Homo sapiens: one gene and its partners. The protein of the gene in region 1 interacts with the protein of each later gene in a biochemical or structural test. Each region holds a gene or a part of one and is shown in the gene's direction. Other genes may lie near its edges.

Region 1 (4,792 bases):
GTCGGGGATCTGAAGTCAAGGGGTCGGCAGGGCTGCACTCTGCCTCTGAGGCTCCAGGGAAAGCTACTTCCTTGCCCCTTCCAGCTTCTGCTGGCTCCAGGCATCCTTGGCTTGTGGCTGCCTCCCTGCAGTCTCTACCTCTGTCTTCACTTGACCTTCTTTCTCTCTGAGTATCTGTGTGCACATCTCTCTCTCGTTTCTCTTATGAAAACATCCATCATTGGAGTTAGGGCCCACTCTAAACCAAGAAGGTCTCTTCTCAAGATCTTCAACTAATGACATCTATAAAGGTCCTATTTCCAAACAAGGTCACATTCTGAGGCTCTGGGTGTACACGAATTTGGGGGAACACCATTCTGCATTCCCAGGACACTCAAGTGGCAGAAGGTGCCTCCTCATAGCACACAGAGCCCTGGCCTCCCTCTCCAGCCTTGAACTCATCCTGCTGTGTCGGAATCACCTGTGGTGGGACCGCCCCACCCCATCCTGCCTCCTCGGCTGTCAGCTCCTTGGGAGCAAGGACTGTGACCTACTTATTCCTCCACTCTGCCCCAAAAGCAGGTCCACTGCAGAGCAGGTGCCTGGAAATGCTGAATGAGTGCAAGAAAGAAGGGGCTGGGGGAGAGGAAGCAGGGGCAGGATAGAAGGGAGGCTGGAAGTACAAACTTGAGCTTCGAGGTTTGAAGAAGGGAGAGGTCACTGCATCGGGAGCCTAGGAAGAACTCGAGAATGCTCAAGTGACCATTTCCTCAAAGCACACAGTCCCTAAAGCTGTCATTCCTCCTGTTTCACCAACTCTGCTAATCTAGGGGTGACATTTGAAAAAAATTATCAATGTCCAGTATGCCAATTTATCTTTTGTTTTCTGTCTCTTTTATCTGTCTGTCCATCCCACCTCTGTCCAGTCTTCTGTCTGTCTGTTCCATGACTCAGCATTGTCTGTTCATTCCATGACTCAGCATTGTCTGTCCGTTCCGTGACTCAGCATTGTCTGTACGTTCCGTGACTCAGCATTGTCTGTCCATTCCATGACTCAGCATTGCCTGTCTGTCCATTTCTCCTTCTATCCACCCATCCAGCATCATTCCTTCATTCATCCATCCATCCATCCATCCATCCATCCTCCCGCCCCTCCTCCCACCTGTCTACCCACTCTCTCTCCTCTCTTCACGCTTCTAACCAGCTATTGCTACCACGTTTCTCTTAAGAAGCACATCTGGTAGGGGACACAGAGTGGCCAGTGGTGGGACAGGGCAGTATGGGGGCCCAGAGGTGGCTCCTCTTCTGGTCTGGTGCTGGAGGGAGGGAGGGGCAGCTTCATACCAAAGAGCTGGGCAAAGGCTCAGGGGAGGGGCCTTGACGGCAGACTCTTTCCAGCCTGGTGGATGAGCTGAAGGCCAGCAACCCGGACTTCCCAGAGGTCAGCAGTGGAATTTATGTGCAAGAGGTTGCGCCGAATTCACCTTCTCAGAGGTAGGCTCTGCCAGAGGAGATCGCTCGAGGCATGGGGCAGGCGTGAGGTCTGGGCTGGGGCTGCCCCACTGACCTCATGTGACCTTGAGCTTCCCAGCAAAGTGACCGGGAAGGGGCAGGTGGATTCTAGCGTGTCTGCTAAGCCAGAGGAGGCTGGAGAGCTGAATGGTCCCTAGAGCCCTGACTGTGTACGTCCTAAGTCCCACAATGTCATTTCCTTCGAGAAGCAGAGGCTGAAGAGTCCCTGTTGGGCTAAGAACCCACTCCAAGCCAGACTCTTTCACTAGCTGGGGACCAGCCTGGGTCCTGGGTCTTTCTGGGACTCAGCTTCCTCATTGTAAAGTGGAGATAATTCAGCCTATTGTTTTTTTTTTTTTTTTTTTTTTTTTTTTTTTGAGACAGTCTCCCTCTTGTTGCCCAGCCTGGAGTGCAGTGTCGCGATCTCAGCTCACTGCAACCTCTGCCTCCTGGGCTCAAGCGACTCTCCTGCCTCAGCCTTCTGAGTAGCTCAGATTACAAGTGCCCACCACCATGCCCTGCTAATTGTTTTTGTATTTTTAGTAGAGAAGGGGTTTCACCACGTTGGCCAGGCTAGTCTTGAACTGCTGACCTCAGGCGATCCACCTGCCTTGGCCTCCCAAAGTGCTGGGATTTCTACCCCCAGGAGACTTTGTAGATGAAATGGATAAAGGATTGCTTTCTTTGAAGTCTTCCAGTACTAGAGAAATGTTAAGCATTGCAACACCATAGGCTGAGGCAGGCGTGCAGCGACACTACCACATGCTGGCATGGCTGACCCACTCCCAAGAAGGGCTCTGAACCAGTTGCCTCCCCTCCTTAGCCTCGGTCTTCATCTGCAGTGGGAAAAATCCACATATAAGTGGACCCACACAGTTCAGACCCATGTTGTTCAAGGGCCGACTGTACTGTGCATCCTCAGAGGCTGGGCTTGAAGGTGGGAGGCCCCGCGTGAACTTCTGTGATGAGCACAGATGGCACACTTGTCCTGCCCGCAGCAGGCCTGCAGTAAAAATTGTTGAAATTGGGTGAAATTTTCCACACACATCTCAGTTAATCCTCACTGCAGCCAGGGAGGTGCAGGCTCCTGCCCTCACCCATTTTACAGGTGGAGGGACTGAGGTTTAGAGAAGTTACTCTTCCAGGTCACACAGCTGGCATGTGAGGGTCCTGATGCTGGTGCCCACGCAGCTGAGCACAGTACCATCACCTTCCTTCCCAGCAGTGGGGAGGTCTCAGTGAGCCTCATGCAGAGAGAAGGCTGGCCCCGTGAGCTCTGCCTCCCACATAGACGTCTTCGTAACTGCAGTAACAGCAGAACCTACTCCTGGGCCTTTATAATTTGCAAAGTGCGTTTCCACATAGGATGGTAGACATGAAAACTGAGGCACAAGGGGACAGAGTGCCTGGCCCAGCTAGGAGGGCTGCAGCGGGAGCTTGAACCCACCCTTCTGACGCATGGGAGAAGCAGTTTGAAAGGTTGTTTCCCTGTCGTGTGACATTGGTTTTCTTCTGGTGTGAGAGCTTTGGGGCTGGGGCACTGTTCTTTCCCATCGAGATGACTTTTGTTGAAATGTTGTCATTGACCCTGACTGTGCCTCGCTCTGGGCCGGGCCTGGGAAGGCTGTGCCTGGGGAGGCGGTGGGTGGTGACCCCGTCTCTCCTGTTGGCAGAGGCGGCATCCAAGATGGTGACATCATCGTCAAGGTCAACGGGCGTCCTCTAGTGGACTCGAGTGAGCTGCAGGAGGCCGTGCTGACCGAGTCTCCTCTCCTACTGGAGGTGCGGCGGGGGAACGACGACCTCCTCTTCAGCATCGCACCTGAGGTGGTCATGTGAGGGGCGCATTCCTCCAGCGCCAAGCGTCAGAGCCTGCAGACAACGGAGGGCAGCGCCCCCCCGAGATCAGGACGAAGGACCACCGTCGGTCCTCAGCAGGGCGGCAGCCTCCTCCTGGCTGTCCGGGGCAGAGCGGAGGCTGGGCTTGGCCAGGGGCCCGAATTTCCGCCTGGGGAGTGTTGGATCCACATCCCGGTGCCGGGGAGGGAAGCCCAACATCCCCTTGTACAGATGATCCTGAAAGTCACTTCCAAGTTCTCCGGATATTCACAAAACTGCCTTCCATGGAGGTCCCCTCCTCTCCTAGCTTCCCGCCTCTGCCCCTGTGAACACCCATCTGCAGTATCCCCTGCTCCTGCCCCTCCTACTGCAGGTCTGGGCTGCCAAGCTTCTTCCCCCCTGACAAACGCCCACCTGACCTGAGGCCCCAGCTTCCCTCTGCCCTAGGACTTACCAAGCTGTAGGGCCAGGGCTGCTGCCTGCCAGCCTGGGGTCCCTGGAGGACAGGTCACATCTGATCCCTTTGGGGTGCGGGGGTGGGGTCCAGCCCAGAGCAGGCACTGAGTGAATGCCCCCTGGCTGCGGAGCTGAGCCCCGCCCTGCCATGAGGTTTTCCTCCCCAGGCAGGCAGGAGGCCGCGGGGAGCACGTGGAAAGTTGGCTGCTGCCTGGGGAAGCTTCTCCTCCCCAAGGCGGCCATGGGGCAGCCTGCAGAGGACAGTGGACGTGGAGCTGCGGGGTGTGAGGACTGAGCCGGCTTCCCCTTCCCACGCAGCTCTGGGATGCAGCAGCCGCTCGCATGGAAGTGCCGCCCAGAGGCATGCAGGCTGCTGGGCACCACCCCCTCATCCAGGGAACGAGTGTGTCTCAAGGGGCATTTGTGAGCTTTGCTGTAAATGGATTCCCAGTGTTGCTTGTACTGTATGTTTCTCTACTGTATGGAAAATAAAGTTTACAAGCACACGGTTCTCAGCCAGCAGGGCACTGGGGCAGCCTACCCACCACTGGCCAGGGTTCTTCCTGGGGACCCATCTAACACATGACTGGGCATACCTGCAAAGACACGGGCCTTTAAAGGGTTTCTATGACAGCTGAGCACTGGGGCACACCAGGTCTCGGGGTCATGTGGCGCTGTGGAGGGCCAGCTCCGAGTCAGGCAGCCCGGCTCAAGTCCTGGCTCCTCCGCTTACTTCCGGCTTCGTGGTCTTGGGCAAGAGATGTTCCCCTCCCTACCTTGGCCTCTGCCTCTGTCCAGCAGGAAGGCTGGCTCTGCTGTGCTGACCTCCTGGATGCCCTGGGATGCAAGGTGACAGATGCAGCACTTGGGAAGCCACCCGGCTTACGGGGAGCTCCCACTAAGCCCCACTGTGCACGTCTGGTCACATGAAGAACCCTTTCTCACATCTATTTCACCCTCCCTGCCACCCATCCAGCGATGGGGAAACTGAGGCAGAGAGCAATTT
Region 2 (5,465 bases), on another chromosome or scaffold:
CAGACCAGATCTTGCACACAATGCACTTTACGATGCAGCAGCTGTGGCCAAGCCTAAAAGAGGAGCATCAGAGAACACGAGACCCAAAGGAAGAAAAGGTGATCTTGGACGGATGAAGGCACCAGGGAAGAAGGCCCAGACACAGCCTTTTACCCAACTCTGATGGGCCAGAGGGATGTCCACCAGCCTTCCCTGCCAAGAAGTCACCCTGAGCCCGGTTTGCTAGGCAGTGATCAGGAGATGCATCTGGAAGAGTAAACCGAAGCTGGTACACAGAGAGTTGTGAACGTCGGCATAGGGAGTCAGGATTGTCTCCTAGAGTCAAAGCCTTCAGAGCCAAATTCCTCCCATGCGTGTGCTTCCTGTGGCCCACAGTGTTTTTCAGTTTCATTTTTGAATCAGATGCCAACATTTTAAAATTGAGAGTGATTATGTCACTACTGGGATTCTAAGCTTTTTGCGACAGTGGGAGGATGAGGCAATGCTGGGCCTGATACCATCGGCTGGGGTGGGGCGGACAGACGTCCTTACTTGTTCACTTTACCTACCCAGCCTCCATATGCAGCAAGAGTTTGAGACCCCTGCACAGGACTTTGGGGACTCTTTGAGGACCTTGGTCAGGAGAAGGGTAGAATTAGTTCTGTGCTTTGGAAGGTCCTCTGATGACAATTGATACTAGCGATGATGGTGCCGATGATCAGAAAGAGGAAAAGGAGGAAGAAGCAGAGAATAGTTCATATTTACTAAGCTTTCATGATGGGGGCTCTGCCCCAGTGTTTATTCCTAGTAGCCCATTTAGTTCTCCCCACAAGCTGATGAGGTGCGTATGCTGTCATCCTCCTTTTTCAGACAAAGCACAGAGCGGTGAGGTCTCTTGCCTAAGGTCATATAGTTGGTAAGTAGCAGAGCCAGGTAGTCTGGGTCCAGGACCCACAGCACTGGTGATGGGGGAGGGGAAATGGTGAGGGGGGGTCTGGGAGACGTGAGTCTTCCCTCAATCTTTCACCGTAGGAGATTGTCTGGTTTTAAAAGAGAAGATGTGTCCACATCTAACCCCGATCTGAGCACTAATGCAATGTCTTTCTCCACTGTTCTCAGAAAGGCTGGTTTTTCTTAATAAACTTGTCAGGCAGGGAAGGAGGGCAGAGGCACTCAAGGGCCGGCTCAGGTGGCTTGGCTGCATGCCCTGGCTCCAGACTCCACTGCCATGTTCCCGTTCCCTGCTTGGCCAGCATAAAGTTGACCCCACTGTGAGGACCAGCAGACCTCACAAGAATGACCCCATCCACGCCTACTGGGGCTCCACCTGCCCATGACTCACCACACCCAAGCCTCTGAGCCCAGTGGACTTGCAAAAGAGAAAATAAAGCACACACATAAAGAATAACCAACCCCATGCATTTCCTGGCATCGGGTGACTGTTTGGTTAAGAGCTTCCTCCTCTTTTGTATGCCCACTGGATACTCCTAACATCCCCTAGCTGCTGACCACAGAGCTGGCTTAGGTGGCTGATCACAAGCTCAGCCCCTGGGCGGGCCCCCCACCCCAGCCACCAGGGAAGCATGGAAGGAGGCCAGCCGCTGGGATCTGCCAGCTCTGGGCCCCAGCGGCCACCCTCTGCAGCTCAAAGTCACCTTTGCTCCTCTCCTCTCCTCGGCTGGCCAGCCAGAACCAGCCCAGAACTCCCTCCCCTCCGCTCAGCAGGACCCAGGAACTGGTCCCTACTGGGCAATTATTAATCAGATTCTTGACATTCCTCAGCCCCAGGTTGGCTGGAGAAGCATGTTCCCCAGAGGAGCAGAGGCCCAGGACTGGCATTTGGATATGCAGCTGACCGGCAAGGTGGTGCTGTCAGCCGCTGCCCTGCTCCTGGTGACTGTGGCCTACAGGCTGTACAAGTCGAGGCCTGCCCCAGCCCAGCGGTGGGGTGGGAATGGCCAGGCAGAAGCCAAGGAGGAAGCAGAGGGCTCAGGGCAGCCTGCTGTACAGGAGGCTTCTCCTGGGGTGCTCCTGAGGGGGCCAAGACGTCGGAGGAGCAGCAAGCGGGCTGAAGCACCACAGGGCTGCAGCTGTGAGAATCCAAGAGGCCCCTATGTCCTGGTCACGGGGGCCACTTCCACAGACAGGAAGCCCCAGAGAAAAGGCTCAGGTGAGGAGCGGGGCGGGCAGGGCTCGGACTCTGAGCAGGTGCCTCCTTGCTGCCCCAGCCAGGAAACCAGAACAGCTGTTGGCAGTAACCCTGACCCTCCCCATTTCCCCCGCTTGGGCAGCGAACCGAAGAGCTCCCCAGCTGGACTCATTGCAGCAGCCGACGGCAGCTGTGCCGGTGGTGAGCCTTCTCCATGGCAGGACAGTAAACCCCGTGAGCATCCAGGACTGGGGCAACTAGAACCTCCCCACTGTCACTACGTGGCTCCCTTGCAAGGCAGCAGTGACATGAACCAGAGCTGGGTCTTCACCCGTGTGATAGGGGTCAGCAGAGAAGAGGCTGGGGCTCTCGAGGCTGCCTCCGATGTTGACCTGACCCTGCATCAGCAGGAGGGCGCCCCCAACTCCTCCTATACCTTCTCATCCATAGCCCGCGTCCGAATGGAGGAGCATTTCATACAGAAGGCGGAGGGGGTTGAGCCCCGGCTCAAGGGCAAGGTGTACGACTACTATGTGGAATCTACCTCTCAGGCCATCTTCCAGGGCAGGCTGGCTCCCAGGACAGCAGCCCTGACTGAGGTTCCATCCCCTAGGCCACCGCCAGGGTCCCTGGGAACAGGGGCTGCCTCGGGAGGCCAAGCCGGTGACACAAAGGGTGCAGCCGAAAGAGCCGCCTCCCCGCAGACAGGGCCGTGGCCCTCCACCCGAGGCTTCAGCCGGAAGGAGAGCCTTCTGCAGATAGCGGAGAACCCAGAGCTGCAGCTGCAGCCAGATGGCTTCCGGCTCCCCGCTCCACCCTGCCCAGACCCGGGCGCCCTGCCTGGCTTAGGCAGAAGCAGCCGGGAGCCCCATGTGCAGCCGGTGGCCGGGACCAATTTCTTCCATATCCCGCTCACCCCTGCTTCAGCCCCACAGGTCCGCCTGGATCTGGGCAATTGCTATGAGGTGCTGACCTTGGCCAAGAGGCAGAACCTGGAGGCCCTGAAAGAGGCGGCCTACAAGGTGATGAGCGAAAACTACCTGCAGGTGCTGCGCAGCCCGGACATCTACGGGTGCCTGAGCGGGGCAGAGCGCGAGCTGATCCTGCAGCGCCGGCTCCGGGGCCGCCAGTACCTGGTGGTGGCTGACGTGTGCCCCAAGGAAGACTCCGGCGGCCTCTGTTGCTATGACGATGAGCAGGATGTCTGGCGCCCGCTGGCTCGCATGCCCCCCGAGGCCGTGTCCCGGGGCTGTGCCATCTGCAGTCTCTTCAATTATCTCTTCGTGGTGTCCGGCTGCCAGGGGCCCGGGCACCAGCCCTCCAGCCGCGTCTTCTGCTACAACCCGCTCACGGGGATCTGGAGCGAGGTGTGCCCGCTGAACCAGGCCCGGCCGCACTGCCGGCTGGTGGCCCTGGACGGGCACCTGTATGCCATCGGCGGAGAGTGTCTGAACTCGGTGGAGCGTTACGACCCCCGCCTGGACCGCTGGGACTTTGCCCCGCCGCTCCCCAGTGACACGTTCGCCCTGGCGCACACGGCCACGGTGCGTGCCAAGGAAATCTTCGTCACCGGCGGCTCGCTGCGCTTCCTGCTGTTCCGCTTCTCTGCGCAGGAGCAGCGCTGGTGGGCCGGCCCCACCGGGGGCAGCAAGGACCGCACGGCCGAGATGGTGGCGGTCAACGGCTTTCTCTACCGCTTTGACCTCAACCGCAGCCTGGGCATCGCCGTGTACCGCTGCAGCGCCAGCACCCGGCTCTGGTACGAGTGCGCCACGTACCGGACGCCTTACCCGGATGCCTTCCAGTGCGCCGTGGTGGACAACCTCATCTACTGCGTGGGACGCCGGAGCACCCTCTGCTTCCTAGCAGACTCTGTCTCACCCAGGTTTGTGCCCAAGGAGCTGCGGAGTTTCCCGGCCCCGCAGGGCACCCTCCTGCCCACCGTCCTGACCTTGCCCACCCCCGATTTGCCTCAGACCAGGGTCTAGCAGTCCCTCAACTGAGCTCCTCATGCAAAGCTGGGGGCCACCGGGCTCCACTGCCAGCCGTCCCTCTGGGGGCCATTTCTAGGCAAACAGGCAACCCAGGAATGTGGCCATCAAGAGGTGAATTCCGGTCCTTTCTCCTCCCCTAGCTGGGGAGAGAGGGATCTTAGATGAGTCTTACCCTTCATGGGCTGCAGAGGCCCCACTGCAGAAAAGAGGACCAGGAGCTGGTGTTCCAAGGCAGAAGGCATTCATGTCTTCAGGGATGACCGCCCTTGCTTCAACTCTGAATTCTTGGGGGGATACACCGGGACCCCACCAAAGCTTAGGGGGCATAGTCTTTTTGCAATCACAATTCTAGGAGCCAGTTGACCCCAGCAGCCCCTCGCTAGTTGCTCTGGAGAGGGGTTGGCTCTCTGAGCCATCAGTGCCCCTTCCTAAACATCAGCCACTGGGCCCCACCTCCACAGTTCCCAGAAGCACCGGGACACACAGGTGGGAAAGATGGAGGCAGGTGACTTGGGCAGGGCCAGGAAGGAGCCGAGGGAGCCCCAGGGGCCCTGGCCAGAGGGAGTGGTGGTTTGAAAAGTAGAACAGCTGAAGCTGGGGCCAGCCTAGGAGACTCTTGCTTGCGAGAAAATATACCAAAGCCCACATTACTTTTCTCCTTATTGGAAGAAAGAGAAGCAGCCATTGTACCAAGCTATCTTCTGGTGGAGGTCTGCTAAGGATACACGGAGGTCTCAGCAAAGGGAAGAAACTATGTGATCCAAGGGCCACCCTGCTCCTCGGCCCTGCCCATGTTAACTGACCATTGCACTCATTCTCAGATCTGTAGCCGTCTTCCTGTCTGGAAGCTGGGGCAACCACCACCAGTCAGCACTTCAGGGTGACAGCATAATTTGCCCTCCTTGTGCCAGGTACGGTCACCTGGTTTGCCGCATTCACATTTTCAGGTGGATGACCAAGCGGAGGAACTAGAAGAGTCTAGTGAAGCATCCAGAGACTGGATCTCCTTTCACATCTGGTTTGATAAACTCCGAATGAAGGAGACCCCCAGCCTCAGGAAAGCACCTGTCCTTCCAGGAGGGACGGGAGAGAGCCTGACCCAGTGTATTACCACAGCCCTTGTTCCACCTCTGAGGGAGACAGTGACAGATGGGAAGGCAGTGATGCTCTTGGTCCCAGCCAGAAGCCAGGGGAGATGGGAGGTACACCAGAGCAGGGCCTGACAAGGAAGAAAATAAGGATGCTTTGGACCTCAGTGTCCTTGTCTTGAAAATGGGAAGGACAATTCATGTCCCTGTCTGCCCTGGGGATAAATGAGAGGATAAAAGAGAAAGTTCTTCCCA
Region 3 (4,013 bases), on another chromosome or scaffold:
ATATCTCTCTGATTATGATAGTATTTTATTTACTTATCCAAACCCTCCTTTCTCAGTATGGATAGATCATGGAAACCAGATTAGAGATAGTAAGCATTAGTAAACATTGTTCTGGAGAACAGGAACAGGTGTAAGTTGTAGAAATCCTGAAGAGCCAGTCATTCTTTTACAGAGTACATTCTTCTTAGCCTCTATGGCGCTGGTCTATGCCCTTCAGTGAACAGTTGTATAAACAATAATTATAATTTGCAACCTTGTCTTGTCAACCTTGCTGATCCAGCTTTTTCTTATTATTACACCTTGTCTTGCTTATTGCAGCAAATATTCAATAACAACAATGTTTCTATAAGTCCAACTTCCTTTATTAATGTTTCCATTTAGCCTCAAAAATATCAAAGTAGTTCCTTTTTGATGTTGTTTTCCTGATTTACTTTTCCCATAAGTTTTAAATACCATTTCTGCCTTGAAGCCTAGAAATTTTCTTTTTATTCAAAAAAAGTTACATTAATGCTCTAGGTTTGAGGTTCTAAAATGGAAATGTCAATAGAGGAGCATGGTCCTATGTGAGGTTCCTATCAAAATTTGTGGGAGTAGGGATGGTAGAGCATGAGGGTTTTGTTTGTGTATGTGTATGGTCATGAAAAAAAATTGAGAAACATTACCTCATACACAATGAATGAATCAGAGGACAGACACGGGAATGGCACGACTGTGCAGTGTGTTACTAGGAAAAAAGTTCAGAATCACTGTTCTAGAGAGCTTCATTTCCATTGGTTTTAAAACATTATTCTCATGTAGAACAGTGTTGGGTCTCATACTGTTAATGTTAATACGTAACAATGTTCATGTTAACAGGCACCTGTTAATATTAACAGATAATGTTACTGTTAACAGGTAAGAGAAATTGCTCTAAGTGCCCAAACTTTATATACTTCAGTTTTAATGACAAGCATTTCAGAAATATAAGAGCGGCAGCCAGACCAACCAGTTTTTCCAGATATCTTGATGTGAACCTGACCCTACTCCTTTAGAAGACAGCCTGTTCATTTTTAAATAGCTTTAACCCAAACTGTTCTATGACCATTGTTTCAAGAGACATTAACACAGTTCTGTAAATAGAAGTGTCTATGGACAAATAAGTTTGGGAAATGTGGCATACTGTATCCTTTTCTTAACATTTGCATATTAAAGACTCTGAGATATCCTGCAGTAAAGACACAAGATACCTTGTTTAAATTAACATGTACGCTGCAGAACATTGGTTTGGAAAAAACTGTTGAGCAGTTCTTCCTTGTAAGTGCTGAGCTTCCTCTCTGAAACCTCCTACCATTGTTTTTTTTCCCCTGTAGCTAACAAGAATAAGTATAACAGCCGGCCAGGCACAGTGGCTCATGCCTGTAATCCCAGCACTTTGGGAGGCTGAGACAGGTGGATCACCTGAGGTCAGGAGTTCGAGACCAGCCTGGCCAACATGGTGAAACCGTGTCTCTACTAAAAGTACAAAAATTAGCCAGGTGTGATGGCAGGTGCCTGTAATCCCAGCTACTCGGGAGGCTGAAGCAGAAGAATTGCTTGAACCCGGGAGGCAGAGGTTGCAATGAGCCGAGATCACGCCATCACACTCTAGCCTGGGGGACAAGAGTGAGACTTCATCTAAAAAAAAAAAGAAAAGAATATGTATACCCCCTTTTTCATGTGGCAGATGTTTAGCTATTTGGGGAGAACTTTCATGGCTCTTCCCTAATCATCAAGTATTCAAGGTAAAGATTCTCGGTTCCTGTAATGGTTCCTCACCAGGCATAATTTGTCCTTTTACCATCCTACTTTCTGTCTTCTGAAAAACATTCTTTATCTGAAATACAGCAATTAATATTAAGATATCTTAATATGAAGTGCCTGGAGTCAAATATAACATTCCAAAGTAGTCTGACTGGAAGAACTAGCACCTGCCTTTCTTCAAACAATGCACTTCTGTTAATGCAGTGTAAGGTAACATGAGTTGTTTTTGGAAACTACATCATAATGTGGGCTTACATTCTAGCACTTATCACTTAATGACAGGGATACATTTGAGGAATGCATTGTTAGGCAATTTTGTCATTATGCAAACATCATAGAGTGTACTTACACAAACCTATGGTATAGCCTACTACACATCTAAGTTATATGGTATAGACTGTTTCTCCAGCTATATGGTGTAGACTGTTTCTCCTAGGCTACAAACCTGCACAGCATGTTACTGTATTAAATGCTGTAGGCAATTGTAACACAATGGTATTTTTATACTTAAACATATCTAAACATAGAAACGGTACAAAAAACTTTACACATTATATAGATGTATCAAATTATTCATATGTGCTCTGAAAATGTCTATATCTGTTATGTATCAATTTTTTAAAAAGTGAATGACATAATTCATTTGAAAAAATGTGGACACACAAATTGGAAAAGAGGTATAAATGCAGTATTATAATCTAATGGGACCACCATCACATATTTGGTCTGTCATTGACTGAAACTGCAATATAGAGTTTTTCTTAACATTTGCATATTAAAGACTCTGACTATATATGGACATATATGACTGTCACCATTGTAAGACATTTTGATGTTATTCTAAGTGACATGTTAAACCATTGGAAGTTTAGAACATGAGAGTGACATAATGTGATCATTTAAGATCACTTTGGCTGCTAAGGGGAGAATTATCTATAGTCAGGAAGGAAAAGAAGTAAGGAGTTAAGTTAGGAGGCTTTTGCAATAGTTCAGGCAATAGATGGTAGTGACTTGGACAAGGTGATAGTAGTGGAGGTGGAGAGAAATGGTTTGACTTGGAATTAAACTTTAAGCTAGAACTGACAAGATTTGAGTGTAGTTTGGATACACAATTTAAAAGAAAGAAATGCGCCAGATGTGGTGCCTTACACCTGTAATCTCAATTCTTTGCAAGGATAAGGCAGGAAGATTCTTTGAAGCCGGGAGTTCAAGACCACTCTAGGCAACATAATGAGACCCCCTCTCTACAAGAAATAAAAATAAAAAAATTAGCCGGGTGTGGTGGTGTGCACCTGCAACCCCAGCTTCTCAGGAGGCTGAGGCAGAACAATCCCTTGAGCCCAGGTGCTTAAAGCTGCAATGAGCTATGATCACACCACTGTACTCCAGCCTGGACAATAGGACCCTGTCTCAAAATGAAAGAAGCGGTGGGGGGTGGAGAGAGAGAGAGAAAGGAAGGAAGGAAGGAAGGAAGCAAGGAAGGAAGGAAGGAAGGAAGGAAAAAGAAAAGAAAAAGAAAGAAAGAAAAAAGCTCACTCCTAGATTTGGTCCTAAGTAGTAAGGATGAATCAGGATGCAATTTTCTAGAAATAGCAAAGACTAGGATAAGAAAAGTTTTCTGGTATGAGTTTTGTTTTGGACATGTTGAGCTTCTACCCATGCTAATGGATATCCAATTAGAGACATTAAGTTAGCAGTTTCATATATGAGTCTGAAGATCAGGTAAGAGGTTGGAGCTAGAAACATAAACTTGAGAATCATCAGCATATATATGGTATTTAAAGCCATCAAACTGGAAGAGATTTCCCAAGAAGTGAATGTGTATAGAGAAATGATGAGCAAGAAGGACAGTTTGACAAGAATAAGGGGCAAAGAGGTAAAATATACAAAGGAAGCTAGGGATCAGATCATGTAGGTTCGGGTGTGCTGGTGTGCACTTGTAGTCCCAGCTACTCAGAAGGCTGAGGTAAGGAGGATTGCTGGAGCCCAGGAGTTTGAGGCTACAGGGAGTGATGATCACACCACTGCACTCCAGCCTGGCCCATAGAGTGAGACCCCATCTCTAAAAAAGAGAGAGAGAGTGAGAGAAATGGTCAAGGAATGGTTGAGCTTGGGGGTCCTCCAACATTGGAGGTTTGGAGAAGAGGAGGATGCAGCAAAGGCAATGAGATGGGTGACCTATGAAATATGAGGAAACTCAGGAGAATGCAATTTAATATAAATGACACACTCTG
Region 4 (4,869 bases), on another chromosome or scaffold:
TCTCTGGGAACATTAAAACCAGCATCCCTGAGCCAGTGGAACTATAATCCATATTATAATGACTCCTGCCAGCATAGCTGGAGGTTAACTTTATGTCGTTGTTTCCATTAGACATTTCTAACCTAATTGTAAAGATTTTGTCTCAGTTGGGTTGAGAGTAGGGTTGAGAGTCTCATAGAAAAAGAAATGGCTTTATTTTTATCTTTATGATAAAATAAAGTTTGTGTTACAGGAATACATTTACAGAAGCAAAATAAAGAAGAGTGTTTATATATTTGTGGGGAGGATTTGTTTTAGTGTTTAAAATAGTTTGGTTTTCAACTGTCTCTTAAATGCATATTTCAGTGGTGGAAAAACCAGAACCTCTCCCTGCCCCCTTTCTCCCCACGTTATGAAAGTGTTCACTGTACAAAGAACTCTTAAGCCTTTCTGGGTCTTGGTTTTCTCATTTTTTTCATCCCTAAAATGGGATTACCTTGCATCCCTAAAGTTCTGTGACTCTCCAAAAGTTTGAGAAATGTAGGAATTCTGAAGCCAGTGCTGTAATGTTAGAACACTGCTATGGGGTTTATAAGGGCTTGATTTACACATTTTATCCCTAACCCTTTATTTGAATAAACCAAGGCCTAGAAAGTTAAATTAGACCTGTATCATCTATAAATAGTTGAGTTGAACTTGAACCAGAGTCTTCTGATTCTCCCTAGTCTCTTCTCCTCTGTTTATTCAAACCTGCCAAACAGACTAAAGTTAATATGTGGCAATTTCTCACAATACATTTTTAGGGTTATATATGAGTTATTTTGATTTCAGAACCCCAGGGTTAACATCTATGCTTTGATGTCAGGGATTAAAAACAGTTCACCAATAATGGTAATAAAACTTTCTCCTCAAGAGAGTTTCAGAAAGTCACATGCTTCAAACTAATCATTTGTTTATTTTCAACTTCTTTTTTATTAAGTAGGCTTCAGGGTGTAATGTGATTTATAATCCGGACTAGTAACCCAGACAGCATTCTTAAGGAAATCACTTCTCAAATCTGTACCTCTTTTTAAAAATAAAAAATGAACATATCATTTGCCTTTGATCTTGGTATCTCTCAGCCTAATTGCAAAGCCTGGGTGAGTATTCCTTTTTTTGGTGTCATCATTCTTGGACTGTTCCTACTGATGGCTGGATAAGTCTGATTTTGCAGCACTTTCCATGCTAAATACATCCTTCCCTTATGCTGTTGGGTTGATGGTAAAGAGGTAGTAGGTTGCAGGTGACCCATTTTTGCTGTGTCTCTAAATGTTTGTGCTTTGTCCTGCTTGCCTAGTTAGCAGCACTCACTGCAGCTTGACACTCATCTGGAGGCTGGTATTGATTTTCTTTAACAGGTTCTAAAATGCAATTATGTGTTAAGCTGTAGGCTCTTTTATGTCTGAGCAGCTTGTCCATCTTCAGCTTTTTAAACTTATTCTCAGAGGAATGTCTTTTCAAAATATTAAGCAATGGGGTTTAAACCTCAATAAGAAGATGTATCAGTGCTCATTGGCTGGGAAGGAGGTGTAGTATATCTGAAATTGCCGCCATTTCCATGAGTGAGAGAAGAGAACATTATGAAGTGCTATTAGCTAGAGAAGTTGGGACACTTTGTACCAGGAGGGCACAAGAGCAGCAAAGGAGAAGAATGATTCTTGGTTTTTAATAATATTATCAGGAGCATGGATTTGGAATGATAGAGGACTTTGAAGAAGGCTTTCAGAGGACATTATCTTGTGGAGAGTGAAAGGAGTTCTCCTGGTTTGGTTTAGCTGTGTTGCTGATGGAACTTGCCCTTCTAGGGTCGGTGTTGTCTTTAGGTTCCCCTGCAGGTGGGTGTGATCAAGGAGAATGTTCTAGAAAGAAGAGTTCCATAGACAGAATGTCAAGGACAAAAGTGTTGCAGAGGGATGACATAGTTCCTGGATTTTAGCACAGATTTTTTCGCTAACATGAGGGAATTTATTAGGGGAAACCTTCCAGTTGTAGAGGTAGACAGATGCGAACCCATCATGTTCAGTTCACATAGCCCAGAGCCACAGTGACTCAACCTCTTCCCTGCCCCACCTCAGCACACCTAGGGTTACGTGCCAGTCATGAACAGTGGCTTATTACCTCTTTGGGTAGGAGATGGGGGTGGAGAGTAGGGAAGTCTCTCAGAAGCACTCAGCTGTGACCTTTTCATGCATGTATACCCATGCAAAAATGGGATCCTCTGTTGCATGAGCTTTTGAAGAAATATGAAAAAGATCATACGTATACGGCTGCTGGTATTATAGCTCTCAAGCCTCACATCCAGAATTGGCCTTTTTGATGTTAGTTCCAATTTGGGAAAGCCCTGGAGGGAACCCGAATTGGCTTGATGCCAGCCAAAGGAGAGTTACGGTTAGACCCATAAAATGGGGCTGTGGGGAGACAAAGTATCCCACAAAGAAGAGGGTTATTGTTAATGGAAGAGGGAGGGAGCTGGATCAACAAAAGAGCTAGCCAGGGCAGTGTACATTTCCACAAGTGGTACTGCTGATCATAACAACATACCAAAGGATATGAAGATTCTTAATGTTGTTGTGATGTACACCCCTGTAGTCTTGAGGGCAGTGGACTTGTCCACATTCTGTGGGACTCTGAATTGCTATGTACACAGACATGAGGGGGTATTGAATTACTGCTAAAAACGTAAGAGTTGGTCATTATTCCCATGTAACCCATTACACTCCCCTCTCTCTGCCATGCTTTGTTCTAAATTACTTGGGATAAGTAACATTAATTATTAATGTTTATTGAGTGCCGGCTGACTCTGAACTACATGTTTGAATTTTAAAAGTCTGTGGATGAAACAGTTTGGTTCTTTCTTCTCCTGTTGTCCTACATACGTAGAATACTATGGCAGGGATGGTCACCATACAACAGCATTCTGTGTTCTGGTCCTCCTTGCTTCTTGTGGCTTAACAACAACTGTTTATTTGCTTGGGATTCAGAAATGGGGGCCAGGTTCCCTGTGCCTAGGCTCACTGGTGCCGTGGTGGTTACATGATTCATTGAGGGCCATTGCTGCAATAGTTTACAACATTATAACCATCCTTGATACCTATGGAAGATTGGTTCCAGGATTCCCACGGATACTAAAATCCTCAAATGCTTAAGTCCCTTATTAAAAATCATGTATTATTTGCATATAGCTTATGCATACCCTCATATATATATATTTTTTAATTTTATTATTTCGAGACAGAGTCTCACTCTGTTACCCAGGCTGGAGCACAGTGGTACAATCTCAGCTACTGCAACCTTTGCCTCCCGGGTTCAAGTGATTCTCCTGCCTCGGCCTCCCGAGTAGCTGGGATTACAGGCATGTGCCACCACGCCTGGCTAATTTTTGTGTTTTTAGTAAAGATGGGGTTTCACCATGTTGGCCAGGCTGGTCTTGAACTCCTGACCTCAGGTGATCCACCTGCCTCAGCCTCCCAAAGTGCTGGGATTACAGGCGTGAGCCACCTTGCCTGGCCTCCTTTGTATTTTATTTTGAGAAAGGGTTTCCATTTGTTGCCCAGGCTGGACTGCACTGGTGTGATCATGGCTCACTGCATCCTCAACCTCCTGGACTCATGCAATCCTTCCACCTCAGCCTCCTAAGTAGCTGGGAGTACAGGTGCACACCACCACACCCAGCTAATTTTTGTATTTTTTTTTTTTTTTTTTTTTTGTAGAGACAGGGTCTTACTATGAGACCAGACCAGGCTGGTCTCAACTCTTGGTTCAAGTGATCCTCCTGCCTTGGCCTCTCAAAGTGCTGGGATTACAGGCATGAGCCAACCCCCCAGTCCTCCTTCATACTTTAAATCATCTCTAGATTATTTATAATACCTAATATAATGTAAATGCTAGATAAATAGTTGTTATTCTGTATTGTTTTAAAATTTATATTTTTATTGTATTTATTGTATTTTATTGTGTTTATTGTATTGTTATCTTTTTTCCAGTGGTCAGTTACTAGAATATTTTTTGAATATTTTCTAACCTAGGTTTGTTGAATCTGTGGCCATGGAACCTGAGATATGGAGGGTTGGGTGTGGAGGGGGGTGACTGTGCTTACTACTATAATCCTGCTTTTGATTAGTTTTCCACTGGCCATGTACTTAAGGGTAAGGTGGATGCGTCCCCTGCCCCAGGGAGTGAATTTTGATTAAGCCATCAATTTTAGTAATGCCATACCTTTTGCCAGTGACTCATTAATGAATATGTATGTGACGCCTGTTAGGTCCTGGCATATTTGAAGCATAAGGTTGTCAGCACAAGAGAACAAGTAGCACCGAGTGCAGACTAAAGGTGGCCTAAGACCACAATTACTTTTTTTTTTTTTGTCGGTGTCAGGGGTGTAGGAGGCGGGCGGGTAGAGACAGGGTCTCACCATGTTGCCCAGGCTCGTCTCGAACTCCTGGCCTCAAGCAATCCTTCCACCTCAGTTTCCCAAAGTGCTGGATTACAGAGTGAACCACCATCCCCAGCCCACAATGACTTATTTTAGCTGCTGATTAGCCAGCCCTAGAACCACTGTGACTCAGAACTTCTGTGAGAAAAAACATTTTCGTTATTGTTTCTTTCTTATCTTTTTTTTTTTTTTTTTTAAGCTAGGGTCTCACTCTATCACCCAGGCTGGACTGCAGTGGCATGATCATGGCTCACTGTAGCCTCTGCCTCCTGGGCTCAAGTGATCCTCCCACCTCAGCCTCCCAAATAGCTGGGACTACAGGTGTGCACCACCACACCTGGCTAATTTTTGTATTTTTTGTAGAGATGGGGTTTCCCCATGTTGCCCAGGCTGGTCCCGAACTCCTGGGCTCAAGGGAT

What was found. Proteins that work in one complex are often made in the same cells at the same time.
Region 2: the proteins of HTRA3 (region 1) and KLHDC7A interact in a test that uses a peptide from one of them, tested with the Homo sapiens proteins (one large-scale study listed by IntAct).
Region 3: the proteins of HTRA3 (region 1) and SLC15A2 interact in a test that uses a peptide from one of them, tested with the Homo sapiens proteins (one large-scale study listed by IntAct).
Region 4: the proteins of HTRA3 (region 1) and TANC1 interact in a test that uses a peptide from one of them, tested with the Homo sapiens proteins (one large-scale study listed by IntAct).

What each region holds. Positions count from the first base shown.
Region 1 is NC_000004.12:8,302,807-8,307,598, forward strand, and holds the end of HTRA3 (serine protease HTRA3 isoform 1 precursor), read left to right. Parts: intron 1-1,377; coding exon 1,378-1,473; intron 1,474-3,164; coding exon 3,165-3,330; 3' UTR 3,331-4,292; downstream 4,293-4,792. UniProt on the Homo sapiens protein: Serine protease that cleaves beta-casein/CSN2 as well as several extracellular matrix (ECM) proteoglycans such as decorin/DCN, biglycan/BGN and fibronectin/FN1.
Region 2 is NC_000001.11:18,479,200-18,484,664, forward strand, and holds the start of KLHDC7A (kelch domain-containing protein 7A), read left to right. Parts: upstream 1-1,730; 5' UTR 1,731-1,782; coding exon 1,783-4,116; 3' UTR 4,117-5,465.
Region 3 is NC_000003.12:121,941,611-121,945,623, forward strand, and holds the end of SLC15A2 (solute carrier family 15 member 2), read left to right. Parts: 3' UTR 1-2,578; downstream 2,579-4,013. UniProt on the Homo sapiens protein: Proton-coupled amino-acid transporter that transports oligopeptides of 2 to 4 amino acids with a preference for dipeptides. Transports neutral and anionic dipeptides with a proton to peptide stoichiometry of 2:1 or 3:1.
Region 4 is NC_000002.12:158,971,206-158,976,074, forward strand, and holds part of TANC1 (protein TANC1), read left to right. Parts: intron 1-4,869. UniProt on the Homo sapiens protein: May be a scaffold component in the postsynaptic density.